2 separate regions of the Homo sapiens genome follow, and region 1 is linked to region 2. Evidence: fine-mapped expression QTL. A gene starts in region 2. The other region holds a variant in brackets. All regions are shown on one strand. Distances are from middle to middle.

Evidence for each region. PIP is the estimated chance that this variant, and not a neighbour inherited with it, causes the effect. A credible set is the group of variants that fine-mapping cannot tell apart.
Region 1: its variant is the best candidate, but not a certain one, in a credible set for the expression of RFX1 in aorta (GTEx, PIP 0.62).

What each region holds. Positions count from the first base shown.
Region 1 is chr19:13,972,196-13,980,195 of GRCh38, forward strand. RFX1 (regulatory factor X1) reads right to left here. Exons shown (of 21, transcript NM_002918.5): 7 at 7,252-7,347; 8 at 5,797-5,891; 9 at 548-932. Among named protein-coding and RNA genes, the nearest start is that of DCAF15, 24 kb to the left of the region's middle. RefSeq lists enhancers at 7,305-7,831, 7,832-8,000. The variant T/G (reference allele first, on the strand shown) is at 4,450.
Region 2 is chr19:14,000,861-14,011,463 of GRCh38, forward strand. It overlaps RFX1 (regulatory factor X1), which reads right to left and starts at 5,460. Exons shown (of 21, transcript NM_002918.5): 1 at 5,243-5,460. RefSeq lists enhancers at 4,686-5,214, 5,215-5,742, 5,743-6,270 and silencers at 4,882-5,261, 5,312-5,491.

The DNA of each region.
Region 1 (8,000 bases), 30 kb before region 2:
ACATTTTTTTTTTTTTTTTGAGACAGAATCTTGCTGTGTCTCCCAGGCTTGAGTGCGGTGGCGCAGTCTCCGCTCACTGCAACCACCTCCCAGGTTCAAGCAAGTCTCATGCCTCACCCTCCTGAGTAGCTGGGATTACAGGTGCATACCACCATGCCCGGCTAATTTTTGTATTTTTAGTAGAGATGGAGTTTCACCATGTTGGTCGGGCTGGTCTTGAACTCCTGACTTCAGGTGATCCACCCACTTCAGTCTCCCAAAGTCCTGGGATTACAGGTGTGAGCCACAGCGCCCAGCCAACAATAGACAACACTTCTGTAGTATTGTGTTAAGAATTTCATGCATATCAGCTGAGGCCCAGAGAGGCTGAGTAATTTATCTGAGGCCACACAGCATTCAATCCCAGGACATCTGCATATGTTCTCTTCATTGGGGGCCACACAGGCTCCTGCTAGCGGTGGTTGGTAACCACCGTCATGGACTGGGCTTCTAGTGCCCACCACCCACCACTGCCTGCCTCCTCTGGGGCCCGCGTTGGGGCACTTACCGTGGCTGGCGAGGCACGGGTGGTGTGAGAGTAAGACTGGCTGGCACTGCCCAGCATGTAGCCGCCTTGGATCACGTAGGTGCCTGCTCCGCTGCCGCCGCCTCCGGTGCTGCCACTGCCACCCCCGCCACCGCCTCCCCCGCCGCCGCCGCCACCACCACTGCCACCACCTCCGCTGCTGTTGCTGGCCCCAGCCCCAGTGCTGGTGGAGCTGGCGACGACCTGGCTGCCGGACACGTACATGGGCATGGAGCCACTGCTGGCCACCGCCTGGGAGGTGGCGGGGGTGCTGACCTGGGTGGCCGTGCCTGCGGCCTCGTAGTAGCTGGTGCTTGCCGTCTGCGTGTACAGCGGCGTCTCGGGATAGGAGTAGGTGCTGGAACGGCTGGGAAAGAGGCAAAGCCAAGGGAGAGTCAGGGGGATGAGAACTGGGGGGCCGAGGGGCATGACTGTGCAGGAAGGGGGGTCCTAGGAGGGGACTGGGGAAGCAGCAGCTCCCCTGCAGCAAGGAGCAGATCCTAGCATTCATCTACAACGGACTGGGTACCATCCTGAGTGCTTGATGGGCAGTATTTCATATAATCATCAGCTGGGCATGGTGGCTCCTGCCTGTAATTCCAGCACTTTGGGAAGCAGAGGCAGGAGGATCGTTGAAGGCCAGGAGTTCAAGACTAGCCTGGGCCACATAGTGAAAACCCATCTCTACAAAAAATATGAAGATTAGCCAGGCATGCTGGTGCACACCTGCAATCCCAGCTACTTGGGAGGCTGAGGCAGGAAGATCCCTTGAGTCCAGGAGTTCAAGGTTGTAGTGAGCTATAACCATACTACCACTGCAGCAAAGCCTAGGTGACAGTGAGACTCTGGCTTTTTATTTTTGTTATTTTATTTATTTATTTACTTATTGAGACAGAGTCTTGCTCTGTCACCCAGGCTAGAGTGCAGTGTCGCAATCTTGGCTCACTGCAACCTCCGCCTCCTGGGTTCAAGCTATCCTCCTGCCTCAGCCTCCCAAGGAGCTGGGAATACAGGGCTCACCACCACACCAGGTTAATTTTTGTATTTTTTTAGTACAGTTGGTGTTCCACCATGTTGGCCAGGCTGGTCTCGAACTTCTGACCTCAAGTGATCCACCCGCCTCAGTCTCCCACAGTCCTGGGATTACAGGCATGAGCCACCACACCTGGCCGACCCTGTCTTTTTAATTAAAAAAAAAAAAAAATACCGAAGGGTTAGGGAACTTGGAATGCTACACACTTCATTAAAAAAATAAAATTGGCAAGTACTTCGAGTGCCTACTGTGTGCTAGGCACTGTTTCACACACTTTGGACACAGCAATGGACAAGAATGAAAAGCCCCGGCCCCCGGAACCGTCTAGTTGGGGAGACAGGCAAGAAGCCACGTGCAAAGGTAAATGAGAGATCATAACAGAAGGTGATCAGGCAGTGAGTGAAGCAGGAAGGGGGTGGGGCTAGAGAAGGCGATGCTGTGATTGGAAGGGACTAGAGAAGGCGACGCTGTGATTGGAGAAGACCATCAGGAATGCAGATATGTTTCCCCTGAGCCAAGCTACCTATCCCAGGCTGGGGAAGCCTCTCTCCTTCAGATATCGCGTGACGGGATGGGCACCGGTGACACAGGCTTGAGGCTGCAAATCGTCACAAGTATACAAGTATAAAAACCACCAGGGGTTCAACCTCAAGGGGCTGTTAAACAAAAGATGATGGAATCCTATGCAGGGGTGAAAGAGAAGGAGGCAAGGCTTGTCGTCCCCCGAAAGAACAAGCTCCAGAACCTAACACCGGGCAGATAAGAGGCAGAGAAGAGTGGGGACCGTGTGACCGAACAATAGGGAAGAATGCGTTGCATGTGGCATGCGTGTCTGTCATCTGTGGGCATGGAGGGCTCCGTCGAGGGGGACAGGCAGGGGGCACCTCTCACCATCTCGCTAAACATCGTTGGACATAGTTTTGATCTTTGAACTCTTTCAATGTACTAGTGATTAAAAACATAGCATTAGGCCAGGTGCAGTGTAATCACACCTGTAATCCCAGCACTTTGGGAGGACGAGGCGGGTGGATCACTTGAGGTCAGGAGTTCGAGACCAGCCTGGCCAACATAGTGAAACCGTCTCTACTAAAAATACAAAAATTAGCCAGGCATGGTGGCAGGCGCCTGTAGTCCCAGCTACTCAGGAGGCTGGGGCAGGAGGATCACTTGAACCTGGGAGGTGGAGGCTGTAGTGAGCTGAGATCATGCCACTGCACTCCAGCCTGGGTGACAGAGTGAAACTCCACCTCAAAAAAAAAAAAAAAAAGGGAGGGGGGCAGGGGCAGGCACGGTGGCTCACACCTGTAACCCCAGCACTCTGGGAGGCCAAGGCGGGTGGATCACCTGAGGTCAGGAGTTCAAGACCAGCCTGGCCAACATGATGAAACCCTCTCTCTACTGAAAATACAAAAAGTTAGCCGGGTGTGGTGGTGGGCGCCTGTAATCCCAACTACTCGGGAGACTGAGGCAGGAGAATCGCAGGAGAACCACCCTGAAGGTGGAGGTTGCAGTGAGCCAAGATTGCACCATTGCACTCCAGCTGTGCAACAAGAGGGAAACTCTATCTCAAAAAAAAAAAAAAAAATTAAACATCCAGAAAGACAGTGTGGTCAGTCAAGAGGTGGCCTGGCTCAGACTCTGAAGGTGGCAGGGGAGGGAGCCGCACAGGCCCGAGTGGTTGTGGGTGAACAAAGAGAGGGAGTTGAGGGGGACAGTGGAAGGAGATATGGAAGCATGGTCTTTGTCACACATCAGGTCCAGCTCTCGATCTCTCTGTCCTGCCCTATGTCTACCACACAAAGTGACACCAAGAGCACATGACCTGAGCAAGAGCCCCTACTTCTCCAAGGCGGGGGCCACAGCCTGCTCACTCCTGCACACCCAGCATGCAATGTGTGCTGCAAAAAGGTTGCTTTGGTAGATGGTTGCTGAATGACTGAATAAATGAATGTGTGCAGCTCTGGATGCCCCCCAGAACAGGACCAGGGATGGAGGCCCAGGGGCTGTGGCTTTGGCCAGGGTGGGGATAGGGCTGGCAAAGGGTCGGGAACTCGCAGTAATTCACTCAGAGGGAGAGACAGAAGGGGTGGGCAGCTGACAGCAGGAGTGGCCCCCAACAACTTCTCGTAGCAGAAAAACCCGATAGCAACGATGAACTAGGTGCAATCACACACACTATGATCACTGAGAGAGGAATTCAGACAGAAGCAAAGGAGAGACAGGAGAGACGCTACCAGGGATGGCAGCAGGAACCCTTGGACACCGTGTTCCTCTTTGCAATGCCCTGTCTGGCCCCTGCCAGCTTGGCTCAACCACACAGTGAAAAGATTAGCAGCACTGGAAAGAAACAAATGGAACTGTGAGGTAGCCGGACGCCGGGGACCAAGCCTCACGATTTAGATGCCTGGACCAGGCCCACTGGGGTCGGTCAGAGCATCATGACCCTAGGACTAAGTCGATCCATGAGCTAACCAATCCCAGCATTGTCCCCAGAAGAACAAGTGGCAGGGATGAAAAAAGAAATCATGCAAATGCAAAGAAAACCAAGTGAAACCTCTGGAAACTAAACCAACAGTAACTCTAGTACTGCAGCAATTTCTGTGGAGATGGGAGAGGGAAGGTGGCATGGAGGACCCCCGGCGAGGAGCCCGAGCCGGGACTGAAGCGGGGCCAGGACGTGGCCCCTGCCTGACACGGCCCATACACAGGAATGGTAGTGCTGTACCCAGGGAGGGGAAGAAGCCCCCTATGCATCACTGGGTGGGGACTGATGACATCGTGGCTGCTGCATCTGCACAGGGGTTATTACACAGCAGCTAAGAGGGTGACCAGGACCCACGAGGACACATGG[T/G]AGAAGAGCCAGGAAAGAAATAAGGTATGGATGGAATGTCCTGCGTCTATTTCTGACCACAGAAAGCGGGTAGAGGCTGGGCACTGTGGCTCATGCCTGTAATCCCAGCACTTTCGGAGGCCAAGACGGGAGGATCATTTAAGTCCAAGAGTTCGAGGAGATGAGCCTGGGCAACGTGGCAAAACCCCATCTCTACAAAAATACAAAAATTAGCTGAGCATGGTGGTGCACACCTGTAGTCCCAGCTACTAGGGAGGCTGAGGTAAGAGGATTGCTTGAGCCCGTGAGCTGCAGTGAGCCCTGATCGCGCCACTGCTCTCTGGCCTGGGCGACAGAGTGAGACCCTGTCTCAAAAAAAACAGAAAAAAAAAGTCCAGTGCGGTGGCTCATGCCTGTAATCCCAGCACTTTGGGAGGCTGAGACGGGTGGATCACGAGGTCAGGAATTGAAGACCAGCCTGACCAACATGGTGATACCCCATCTCTACTAACAACACAAAAATTAGCTGGGTGTGGTGGTGTGTGCCTGTAATCCCAGCTACCCGGGAGGCTGAGACACGAGAATCACTTGAACACAGGAGGCAGAGGTTGCAGTGAGCCGAGATCACACCACTGCACTCCAGCCTGGCGATAGAGCAAGACTCCATCTCAAAAAAAAAAACAAAAAAAAAGAAAAAAATGGATAGAGGGCTAGAGTTTCTGTTCTTAGAGTATCTCTGGAAAGAAACAAAGAAACAGGTCACAGCATCCTCTCTGGGACAGGGTTGAGAGTCAAATGATTTTTTTTTTTTGAGATGGAGTGTCACTCTATTGCCCAGGCTAGAGTACAGTGGCACGATCTCAGCTCACTGCAACCTCCGCCTCCTGGGTTCAATCAATTCTTCTGCCTCAGCCTCCCGAGTAGCTGGAATTACAGGTGCCTGCCACCACTCCTGGCTAACTTTTGTATTTTTAGTAGAGACAGGGTTTCACCATGTTGGCCAGGCTAGTCTTGAACTCCTGACCTCAAGTGATCTGCCCGCTTAGGCCTCCCAAAGTGCTGGGATTACAGGCGTGAGCCACCGTGCCTGGCCTTTTTTTTTTTTTTTTGGTTAAAAACCAGGCTCATTTGACTCCCAAGCCCTAAGCTATGCCGGGGTGCCTTTCCCAACCTTCAAGGGTCCCTCTGCTTCGCCACTTTTCGTGGCTGTGGCTGCCCCTGGGGAGTGCCCACCTGTGTGTCTGTCACCTGAGGCCTTGAAGGCCGGATGGCCTGCTGGGGGCTGGGACTGGGGACTGGTGTCCTGGGAGACTGGGGAGGCTCCAGTGCAGACCTGACTCCCTCACCCACCCCTCTCCCTTCACTTACATGGCACTGGCCGTGTAGCTGGCATCGCCGCCCTCCACATACTGCACCTGGCTGGAGTACACGTGTGGGACGGGCACCTGCTGGAGCTGCTGCACCTGGGGCAGAGGAAGGGCACGTGGAGGGTCAGGGGTGGGCCAGCTCCTACGGTTCTCCCTCTAAAGGGCTGGTGCCCACCCAGGCTATCCCTGACGCCCAGCTCCCGGACCCAAGGGTGGCTTCTGGACTCTCAACAAAACACCCTGGAGGAGGCCAGGGCTGGGAATCAGGAAGAGCTGTGTCAGGAGAAGCCAGGACTCTCGGCTTCGGCTGGGGCCAGCAAGGGTGGGGCCTGACGGACAGTGGAGGGGACCCGAGACAGGGTCCTGTAGTGGGCGTGAAGGTTGGACCCCAGGCACAGGGGCAAGGCTATCGCTGGAGCCATGGAGCTACAGAAAGGGCCTCAGGGGTGGGGCCTGGAAACCGGGCACAGGATGTGAGGGGCGGAGCCTGGGGCCCCGGTTGGTGGGACAGAACCTGGAATCACTGACAGGGCCTTAGGGGCGGGGCCTGAGTCCCCCACCTCCATCCCCCACCCTTGTCTGCAGGGGCGGAGCTGGGACCTGGACGGGGCTTGGGTGGGGAGTCAGAGGCGGGTCCCTAGACCGACCCGTCGGGCGGAGGTGGGGTCTACAGGGCTTGCGGGGCCTGGTGGGCGGCCCAGACTGGGCGCCCCCGCCCCCGCCCGCCCGCTGCCCCCCGCCCGTGCGTCCGCCACCTACTTTGAGGGCCGTGGCGGCCGTGCCGAACACTAGCACCTGGGGGATTCTCTGGATCCTGACCCTCTGGTCGGGGCTGGCTCGGGCCGGGAGCCGGGACAGTGGCTCGAAGACCACTTTCTGCTGCGGCAGGAGCAGGTGTGGGGGCAGCACGCCCACCAGCTCCACCCACTGCTCGGCGCCCGGCTCGTAATGGGGCGGCGGCGGCTCGGGGCTGCCTAGCTGCGGGGCCTCGCCGCTGCACGCGGGCGGCCGGGGCGGCGGCTCCGGCGGCGGCGTGGGCCGGGGATCTCGCTGCTCTGCCTTCCTAGCGGGAAACTGACTGCCTGAGCTCTGGAGGACAAACAGAGACACTGGGGGGTCAACGGGGGCGGCCGCGGGCGGGGCTCCAGGCCTCCACCCACCGGGTTGCTGAGCGCGCACGCAGCCACCCGAGGGAAGATCCCCGCCGCCCGGGGTCTCGGAGAGGGGTTAGAACTGACCCAGGGCCACGCAAGAAAGAAGAGGGGTTTGAATCCAGATCTCTCTTAGCAAAACCTGGACCCTGAGCTGCCAGGGGGCCGGGAAAGGGGAAGGATGTAGGGCAGTGTCTGCAGCTCACAGAGGCATTTCCCTCCCTGCGGCCTCAGGGGCCTGCACTCCCCAGCCCCAGCCCGGGACCAGCCCCTTTGCCCGTGGGGTAGGAGGGGGAGACACACACCTCTTGAGCCACGTGGACTGGCTGGAGGCCCTGCACGGTCAGCGGCTGCACCGGGCCGGGTTTGGGCGCTTGTGGAGTGGCCTGGACCACAGATCTCTGGGAGGGGAAAGGCAACAATAAGATGACCATGGCAACGATGGCCGTCAACCTACCCAGCCCCTGCACAGGTGAGCTTCTGTAAAGCTCACAGCAGACCCATAAGCAAGAGGCCACCATTCTCCAGCCAAGCAAGGAGGGTGCTGGATCCATTACTGATAAAGTGAGGCTCCCAGGAAGCAGCAGGGCTGAGTTGAACCTGGGACTAACTTCGGGGTCTCTGCTCTCCGCCCCCTCTCCCTACGGGCCCCTGAAGCTGTGCCAAGAACCCGCAGGCAAGGCCTTGGGTTATCTTTCGTCCCCACACCCCCCAATGTCAACTGTGTGCCCTGTTCTGTGCTGTGGCGGGCATGCGGGGATTATCCTAGGGGCGCAGAGCCAGGGACGGAGGCTGGCGGAGGAGGGTGCTGAGTGGAGGAGCTGGGGCCTGGACCTAGGTCTGGAGGTTCGGGGGGGCTCTAGTGCCAGGCGGGGGAGTATCTGTGAAACCTCTGGGACAGGGTTTCTGTTTACACTTGGGGAAGGGTCTATGGATTTCATCTGTTTTTTCAAGGGGCTTGGAACCCCCTCAACTTCAGTGGTAACAACCAGATGGTGCGCAGCCCCAGCATCTTAACCTGCGCCGGCTCAGGGCTCTGCCTCCTGCAGAGGCT
Region 2 (10,603 bases):
AGGGCAGGAAGATTGCTTGAGGCCAGAAGTTTGAGACCAGTCTTAGCAGCATAGCCGAGACTCCATCTCGACAAAAAAATTTTAAAAATTAGGTGGGCGTGATGGCGTGTGCCTGTAATCCCAGCTACTCGGGAGGCTGAGGTAGAATTGCTTGAACCCAGGAGGCAGAGGTTGCAGTGAGCCTCTCTGCAAAAACAAAAAAAACAAAAAACAAAACAAAACAAAAAAATGCTGCAGATCCATTCCTGCCTCTCATGGCCTCGGCCCCACCTCTTCCTCCCACCTGGCATGCTGTCCCCACCGCCACCTTCACGGCTGGCTTCTCCTCCTTATTCAGGTCTCAGCTCGTACACACTTCCTTGGGTCTGAAGGTACCCTCAAGCACATACTACTATTTTATTTGCTTCCTGACACTGTGTTTCCCTGTTGAGTTTATTTTCTTTCTTTTTCGTTTCTTAGAGACAAGGTCTCACTCTGTTGCCCAGGCTGGAGCACAGTGGCACAATCACAGCTCACTGTAACCTTGAATTCCTGGGCTCAAGTGATCCTCCGGCCTCAGCCTCCACAGTATATGGGAACGCAGGCCTGTGCCACGACACCTGGCTAATTTTTAAATCTTTTTAAGAGATGGGGTCTCGCTATGTTGCCCAGGCTGGTCTCAAACTCCTGGGCTTAAGTGATCCTCATGTCTCAGCCTCCCGAAGTGCTGGGATTACAAGCATAAGCCACTGAGTCTGGCTGGATTTATTTTCTTCCTCCTAGTTCCTCTTCCCTCCCTGACTGGAAAGGTAAGGGCCCCACAGGCAGAGACCTGGTGGGCCTGGTCTCTGTCTCAGCTCCTAGAAAACTGACAGGCAAGGCCGGGAGCAGTGGCTCACGCCTGTAATCCCAATATTTTGGGAGGCTGAGGCGGGCAGATCGCCTGAAGTCAGAATTTCAAGTCTAGCCTGGCCAACATGGTGAAACCCTGTCTCTACTAAAAATACAGAAATTAGGCTGCTGCGGTGGCTCACACCTATAGTTCCAGCACTTTGGGAGGCCAAAGCGTGTGGATCACCTGAGGTCAGGAGTTCGACACCAGCCTGGCCAACATGGTGAAACCCTGTCTCTACTAAAAATACAAAAATTAGCCGGGCATGGTGGTGGGTGCCTGTAATCCCAGCTACTCGGGAGGCTGAGGCAGGAGAATCTCTTGAACCTGGGAGGTGGAGGTTGCGGTGAGCCAAGATTGCGCCATTGCATTCCAGCCTGGGCAACAAGAGAGACACTCCGTCTCAAATAAACCAAACCGAAACAAAACAAAAATGAGCCGGTCATGGTGGCGGGCATCTGTATTCCCAGGTACTCGGATGGCTGAGGCAAGAGAACTGCTTGAACCCAGGAGGTGGATGTTGCAGTGAGCCAAGATCGTGCCACTGCACTCCAGCCTGGATGACAGAGTGAGACTCTGTCTCAAAAAAAAAAAAAAAAAAAAATTAGCCAGGCATGGTGGCAGGCATCTGTAATCCCAGCTACTCGGGAGGCTGAAGCAGGAGAATTGCTTGAACTGGGGAGGTGGAGGTTGCGGTGAGCTGAGATCACGCCACTGCACTCCATCCTGGGCGACAGAGTAGGACTCTGTCTCAACAAAAAAAAGAAAGAAAGAAAGAAAAAAGAAAAGAAAACTGACAGGCAAATAGTGGGGGTTTTGACTCTTACTGTCCAGGCAGCATAAATGATGCACCAGAACACACTGCTAGTGAGCATCAAAGGCAGGTTCCAGTCTATCAACTGCTGAGACCGTGTGAGAAAGTTACTTCCTGCCACAAGCCTGCTTGTGCTACAGAGCCAGGCAATGCCTTCTGGTCCAGAACAGGCCTGGGAAGCAGGTGGGAGAAAGTCTTTCTCGCCTAGGAAGACCACGTCCTGTACAGCTGCTATTGAAGGCAGCATCTCTGCGGGCGGGGCAGCCTGGCCATCCCCTTCCCTGAGATGCTCAGGTACATGACAGAGGAGAAGGGTGAGGACCTCGGCTCCAGAGACGCCATTCCAAGCTCCCCACCGTTCCCACAATGTCCACATCCCCGCTCACCCAGCTGCCTCCTGGAAGGCTTGGGACTGTGTCTGGGCCTGAGCCCAAGTAGCATTTTGTGTGTGTGTTTTGAGACAGTCTTGCTCTGTCACCCAGGCTCAAGTGCAGTGGCACGATCTTGGCTCACTGCAACTTCCATCTCCACGGTTCAAGGGATTCTCCTGCCTCAGCCTCCTAAATAGCTGGGACTACTACAGTCATGTGCTACCATGCCCGGCTACTTTTTGTATTTTTAGTAGAGATAGGGTTTCACCGTGTTGGCCAGGCTGGTCTCCAACTCTTTACCTCAAGTGATCCACCCACCTTGGCCTCTCAAAGTGCTGGGGGAGTGAGCACCCAAATTGAGCCACTGTGCCCGGCCAGGATTTTTCTTTCTAGTGACTCTCCTAAAGCCAGAGAACAGCCATTCAGCAGCCAGGGGAGTGACTTTCCCACTACAAACTGGATCCCTGGTATCCAGCTTCCTGGATCCCTGTCATCGACCCACACAGCCCAGCAAGCGAGAAGCAAGTCAACCTTTAAAGCCACGAGGGCTCTCACTGGATTCAAAATGATAAAAATAAAAGCCAACGGTGTATTTCCGAGGGTTGAACAGGAAGCGACAATCACCGTAACAGCAGAGGCTAACATAACTACATTAGCAATTACTTTGTATTTAGTTAGTTTCAGCAATTCCTATGTATTTGATATTCAACAGGTATTATTTTCTGGGATCCATAGCACAGAAACATGAGATTGAAAGGACTACCAAGGATTACTGCCCCTAGATGAAAGGAAGGGAAACTGAGGCCCAGAAAACTTAAGTAACTCACCTAAGAGCACACAGCTAGAAAAGCTGACTGTTTCAAGTCAGCTTCAAATCACCCTAGTGTTCTCTTCCTAGTCAAATGACTCCTCAGGCCCTTCATCTGTAAATGTAACTGGTGACTGAGGCAGTCAACATGACCAGATAATTGGTAACATCACTTTCTGCTCAGTTAGCTTTTTTTTTTTTGAGACAAGTCTCACTCTGTTGCCCAGGCTGGAGTGCAGTGGCCTGTGATCTCAGCTCACTGCAACCTCCGCCTCCCAGGCTCAAGCAATTCTTGTGTCTCAGCCTCCCGAGTAGCTGGGATTACAGGCATGTGCCACCACGCCTGGCTAATTTTTTTAGAAACAGGGTTTCACCATGTTGGCCGGGCTAGTCTCAAACTCCTGACCTCAGGTGATCCGCCCACCTCAGCCTCCCAAAGTGCTGGGATTACAGGTGTGAGCCACCACGCCCAGCCTGCTCAGTTAGCTTTTTTAAGAAGGGCTAGCCGGGCGCGGTGGCTCACGCCTGTAATCCCAGCATTTTGGGAGGCCGAGGCAGGTAAATCTCGAGGTCAAGAGATCAAGACCATCCTGACCAACATGGTGAAACCCCGTCTCTACTAAAAATACGAAAATCAGCCGGGCATGATGGCGAGCGCCTGTAGTCCCAGCGACTCAGGAGACTGAGGCAGGAGAATCACTTGTACCCGGGAGGCGGAGGCTGCAGTGAGCCAAAATCAAGCCACTGCACTCCAGCCTGGCCACAGAGTGAGACTCCGTCTCCAAAAAAAAAAGTGCTGATGATCCGTCTAGCAACTTGGCATTTCTAGCTTTTTTGTTTGTTTTACTGAAAATTAATCTCCACCTGTCCTAACTTTCAAAGAGTCCCTGCCTCCTCTAAAAAGGGCCAGGCCTAGAAAAAGTACCTGGAGAAGTTAGGACCCGCCAACCCCCACCAGACCAATCTCAAACTCTTGGGAAAAAGCCTGAAATGATCCTTTTCCTTGGAATGTATTGACTGATTTAAAAGGAAATGGCTGCAGTTTGCACACCGACACTAAGCTCAAAAGCAAGACGGAGAATAAGCCAACTAGACTTGGCCTGGCTGGCTACTTAAAAAAAAAATTCCTCCCCGAGCTGGCAGGATATTGTCACCCTAAAAAGCAGTGGCAAAGATTCTCCTCTCACAAACATGGATAGCTTCCCCTTCCCTCTGACCGCTCCTGCCCACGTGGCCCTAGAGGCTGGGACCTTGTCAGTGACATGTGACTCGGTTGACACTCGTTTGACACAAAAACATGTGTCTGGCCAAGAGAAGCGGGTTTAAAAAATCTAAGAAACTTCCTCAGGCTTCATTTGCTCCCCCATTCCCAGTAGGGGAGACCTCGATGGGCAGGACCCAGAAACGTTCCATCTCCAGGAACAAACCCCCGCAACCTCAAACCAGGAAACATCAGGTCTCAAACAGCAGCCCAGAGAAAAGCACTCAGGTTTCTGTTCCTCTAAAGCATTCCCTCATGGTCACTCCTCCCTACCATGGACTTTGATTTCTGCAAACCAGATCCTCCACGCTAAAGCCAAATCGACTCCTAGCTCCTCCATGAAACTTTGCTTCCTCTTTGCTTCCTCCCAGAGAGAAGGTGGCAGGTTTAGGAGTGGGCTGCAGTGTTGAAATCAGGACTAGCTGACAGTTATTTTATCAAACCACATTCAGAAACGGTAGATACGAGGAAAAGGTTCAAAGATAAGCCGTAAGTAAAATTCCTGGAAGGAATGAGGAGTCCCGGTACTGCAGGAAAAGGGCGATGTCAATGATTCTCCCCATTTTACAGGATGGAAAACTGAGGCCTCAGATGGACAGGCACTTGTCCAAGTTCTGAGTCCTGGGACAACTGCAAAGCTCTTAAGGAAGAAGGGAGTCGCTTAAGGATCTGGAAGGCGGACCGGGTGGTGGCTGCCCACCCTGGTTCCCGAGGTGGAGGTTGGGGAGACCCAGCCGGCCCCGCCCATACCTTCCCTCCTGGTCCCGCCCACCCACCTTGGCCCCGCCTCGTACCTCCCTCGCTCCCATTGGCCCAGCCTCCCCAGGCCCGCCCCTTCGCGCTCCCGACATATAAAAGCCCCCCGCCCCGGCCTGCCGACCTCCACTCGCCGCGGGCCTGCGAGCGCCCGCCCCTCGCGGGGGCCGGGCCGCGGGGACGGGGGCGGGTGGTGTCGTTCCAGCCGGGCCCCGGCCCCCTCCCCCACGGTCCAGACAGTCGCCGCCGCCATTTTGACCGCCCGCCCCTTCCCCCCGGACTGTGATTACAGAGACACCTACTGCCCCGGCCCCGCCGCCCACCCCGGCCCGGCCAGCCACCCCGGGGCCGCCCTGGTTACCTCCGCTTCTCCCCACTTCTGTCTGCGGAAACGCTTTTCGGAGGTCTCGGAGTCGATGTTGGGAAGGGGACGGGACGTGCTGGGGTCCCCGGGCCGGGCCTGGGGGGTGGGGGTGGGGGTCGGCCGGGCGGTTGTTGTTGTTGACTCGCGTTGCCGGGTTGCTTGGTCGCCACGACTACCGTGGCTATGGCGCCTCCGTTTCCCTCACCGGGGCAACTGTTGCTACCCACCCTAGTTACGTCACGCGCGGGGGCGGGGCCCGGGGTGATTGGCGGCGGCCGGAGAAGTGATTGGACGGCGCCAGGCCTTGCAGCTAAACTATTAGTTCCGATGCACGCTTTTCAACACCCTCTGGACTTCCCGGCGATCTGATTTATCAGTATGAATGTCCATCAAAAGAAACTGAACCCTCAAAGGCAGCCGGGCCCGTCACTCCGGCAGGGAAGCAGCTGGTTAAGAATAAAGGGGTAGGACTCGTGAGGACGGGATTGGTTTGCCGATGTAAAACCGGCCTCCTGGTTCGACTAAAGGGACGTCAATCTACCAAAGGTTTGCCGCGCTCTCTGGCTGGAGGCCGTGCGCATGCTCGGCACGCAAGGCCGATTGGGAGTTGTAGTCCGCTCTTGCGTACACTTTACATGTCTTACCAAATTAAAAAGGCGAGAAAGGAAGACTCCGCTCCAGACTTCTCTCTCGCTCGGTGGGCCAGTTTCTGGCTTCTTGCGCTGACGTCAGGGGAGGAATGCAGTGACGCAGCGCAGCCCCTCTGTGACGACAGCGGCGAAGGCCGGACTCGGGATTCGATGACGTCACTGGGCGCGCGTCCCCCTTCCCCACTGCCCATGGCCCCGTCGGGGTTGGGTGGAAGCGGGAGGCCGCGGCGGGGTTCGATCCCAGCTCCCACCCGCTGGGGTGACATCCTCCTCCGCCCAAGCCGGCCAGACAGCGCGGCCGCCGCGCCTTCTCCCGCCTCCCGGTCCCCTCCAGCCGGAAAAGGTCACCGCTGCCGGGGTGACCGCGGCTATCTCTGCCCCGCAGGCGGTGCGGCCGCCTTGGGAAAGGTCTCTGCAAGGCGGGGGACTTCATTCGCGGCTTCAACCGCGGTAGATAAGCAAAGGTCAGCCCCGACCCAGCCCAGGGAGCTTGGTCCGCCCAGGAGAGCTCACCACAACCCCCGCCACACACACACACCTCCCACACATACGCTCCTCTGTGCCTCAGTTTCCTCAAGGGACTGTCTGGGTGCTGCAGGACGAGAAGAGACAGAAACAGGGCCCGGACTAGGGTGAACATCTTGGGAGCAAAAACTCAGTCATCAAGATAAATAATCTTCTAATTCAATATTTGTTAAATATCCAAATTAATGGGAAAAAATAAATCTATGATGAACAAAACATCACAATTTTAAATAAAGACAGGATCCGCCAACACAGGGATTAAGGTGAGATGCGTTATGCAAGCTCAGGGTCAGATCTTGTGTTTAAAATAAATTTATTATTATTATTTTTTGAGACGGAGTCTCACTCTGTCGCTGAGGCTGGAGTGCAGTGGCGCAATCTCGGCTCACTGCAAGCTCCGCCTCCCAGGTTCACGCCATTCTCCTGCCTCAGCCTCCCGAGTAGCTGGGACTACAGGTGCTCGCCACCACGCCCGGCTAATTTTTTGTATATTTAGTAGAGACGGGGTTTCACCGTGTTAGCCAGGATGGTCTCGATCTCCTGACCTCGTGATCCGCCCGCCTCGGCCTCCCAAAGTGCTGGGGTTACAGGCGTGAGCCACCACGCCCGGCCTACTTTTTATGTTTTAAATGTCAATTATCTTATGACTGAGCTCTTTGGCCTTCTCTTAAATTTTGCATTCTCATCCCAGGTAGGCCCTAGAACAGCAAGGGGAAAAGAAAACAGGCTCAGACAGCCCTGAAGTCTAATGCCAGCCCTGCTGTGTGGCATTCAGAAAGTGACTCCACCTAAGTTTGTTTCCTAATTCAACCAACATTATATTTCCTCGGTGCAAGGCCCTGGGCTATACAAGTGAAGAAAGGTGACTTCATTTATGGTGGCTCACACCTGTAATCCCAGCACTTTGGGAGGCCAAGCAAGGAAGATTGCTTGAGCCAAGGAGTTCAAGACCAGCCTTGGCAACAAAGCAAGACACCCGTCTCTACAAAAATTAGCTGGGCATGGTAGTGTATGCCTGTAATCCCAGCTACTCCGGAGGCTGAGGTAGGAGGATTGCTTGAACCCGGGAGGGGGAGGTTGCAGTGAACCAAGATTCTGCCACTGCACTCCAGCCTGGGCGACAGAGCGAGACTTTGTCTCAAAAAAAAAAAAGCAATTAGCTAGGCGTGGTGGCATGTGCCTGTGGTCCCAGCTACTCTGGAGGCTGAGGCTGGCAGGATTGGTTCAGCTCCGGAGGTAGAGGCTGCAGTAAGCAATGATTGTGTGGTCCAGCCTGAGTCTCAGAAAAAAAAGAAAAAAAGGAAAAAAAAGAAAGCAAACAACTCCCTTTGCATTCTAGGATGGGATACACAATAAACAGATAAATTGTAAGATAGGCTCCTTAGAGTCCTGAGAGCAACATAAGAGAGTGGGGTAGGAGAATGAGAGGATGCTGTAGCCAGTGTTATCTGAGGGGGGATGTCCCACAGAATGAGCCTGAGTGGTGAGAGACGAAGCAAGCCTCATAAATCCAGGTGGAGGGGCCGGTCATGATGGCTCATGCCTGTAATCCCAGCACTTTGGGAGGCCAAGTTCAGGAGTTCCAGAACAGTCTGGCCAACACGGCGAAATCCTGTCTCTACTAAAAATACTAAAATAGGTCGGTGTGGTGGCACGTGCCTGTAGTCCCAGCTACTGGGGAGGCTGAGGTGGGAGAATCACTTGAACCTGGGAGGCAGAGGTTGCAGTGAGCCAAGATCGCGCCACTGTACTCCAGCCTGGGCAACACAGTGAGACTCCGTCTCAAAAAAAAAAAAAAAAAACGGGGGGAGAGAACTGCCTTCAAAGCTGGGAACAGGAACTTCTGCTAAAGCCAGGAGAGATAAGGTTGTAGAGGTAATAATAGCCACATAATTCCCAGCGAACCCAGCAAAGTGGGACGCTCCCCGCTCTTGACAGGTGGGCAATGGATGCCCAGAGAGAGGAAGTAGGTGCCCTCTCTGCCAGAGGCGTGTGAACCAGAGCAACTCCATCTTGAACAGGAACTGGGTAAAATGAGGCTGAGACCTGCTAGGCTTCATTCCTAAATGGTTAAGGCATTCTTAGTCACAGGATAAGACAGGAGGTCAGCGCAAAATACAGTTCATAAAGACCTTGCTGGCTGGGTGCAGTGGCTCATGCCTATAATCCGAACAGTTTGGGAGGCGGAAGTGGGCGGATCACTTGAGGTCAGGAGTTCGAGACCAGTATGGAAAACATGGCAAAACCCGATTTCTAATAAAAATACGAAAATTAGATGGGCGTGGTGGTGGGCACCTGTAATCTCAACTACTTGGAGGCTGAGGCAGGAGAATCGCTCGAACCCGAGAGGCAGAGGTTGCAGTGAGCCGAGATCACCCCACTGCACTCCAGCCTGGGTGACAGAGTGAGACTCCATCTCAAATAAATAAATAAATAAATAAATAAATAAATAAATAAATAAATAAAAATAAAGACCTCGCCGGGCGTGGTGGCTCACGCCTGTAATCCCGTCACTTTGGGAGGCTAAGGTGGGCAGATCACGAGGTCAGGATTTTGAGACCAGCCTGGCCAACATGGTGAAACCCCATCTGTACTAAAAATGCAAAAATTAGCCGGGTGTGGTGGCGTGCGCCTGTAATCCCAGCTACTAGGGAGGCTGAGGCAGAATTACTTGAACCCGGGAGGTGGAGAGTGCAGTGTGCCAGGATCGCGCCACTGCACTCCAGCCTGGGTGACATTGTGAGACTCTGTTTCAAAAAAGATAAAAATTTTAAAAATAATTTAGAAAAATACATAAATAAAGACCTTGCTGATAAAACAGGTTGCAGTAAAGAAGCTGGCTCAAACCCACCAAAACCAAGATGGCCATGAGAGTAACGTCTGGTCCTCACTGCTACACTCCCACCAGCACCATTACAGTTTACAAATGCCATGGCAACGCCAGGAAGTTACTTTATATGGACTAAAAACAAGAGGCATGGAATAATCCACCCCTTGTTTAGCATATCATCAAGAAATAAGGCTGAGTGTGGTGGCTCATGCCTGTAATCCCAGCACTTTGGGAGGCCGAAGCTGGCAGATCGCTTGAGGTCGGGAGTTCAAGAACAGCCTGGCCAGCATGGCGAAACCCCGTCTCTACTTAAAATACAAAAATTAGCCGGGCGTGTGGCGCATGCCTGTGATCCCAGCTACTCAGGAGGCTGAGGCAAGAGAATTGCTTGATCCCGGGTGGCAGAGGTTGCAGTGAGCCAAGATCACACCACTGCACTCCAGCCTGGGCAACATGGAGACTCCATCTCAAAAAAAATAAAAAAAAATACAGCCCTCGAGGCTGCTCTATGGAGTAACCATTCTTTTATTCCTTACAAATTTGCTTCCACTTTACGGACTCACCTGGAATTCTTTTTTTTTTTTTTTTTTTTGAGACGGAGTCTCTCTCTGTCACCTAGGCTGGAGTTCAGTGGCACGATCTTGACTGATTGCAACCTCCGCCTCCCAGGCTCAAGCGATTCTTTTGCCTCAGCCTCCCGAGTAGCTGGGACTACAGGCGAGCGCCACCACGCCTGGCTAATTTTTGTATTTTTAGTAGAGATGGGGTTACACCATATTGGCCAAGCTGGTCTCTAACTCCTGACCTCGTGATCTGCCCGCCTCGGCCTCCCAAAGTGCTGGGATTACAGGCGTGAGCCACCGCACCAGGCCCTGAATTCTTTCTTGCGTGATATCCAGGAACCCTGTCTTGGACTCTGGATCGGACCCCCCTTTCCTGTAACATCTCCACCCCAAGATCACGAAGCTGGAGGAACCAGAGCCCATCTCTTTTCATGGGACTTTCCAGTGCCCTGGGTGTGACCCTGGATGGGAGAAGAGGAGAAGCAGCAGCTCCAGTCTGCCTGGAATTGCCGGTTGAGTCCCAGCCCTGACAGTACCTGCAAGAATTAATGAGACTTCCAGGCAGGCAGTGCCCAAGAATGAATCCCAGCTGGCAATACAAGTCACATCAGGGTCCCAGGACCAGCCATGGGGACTTCATTGTGGGGAGGGAAACTAGAAGCCCTATTTCCACCTCCTACCCATTTCTCCAATGCCCAGAAGTAGCTGGACCAAGCCCAGAGACCATGTCGTCCATCAAAAATATTCAGCTGGGCGTGGTGGCTCACACCTGTAATCCCAGCAGTTTGGG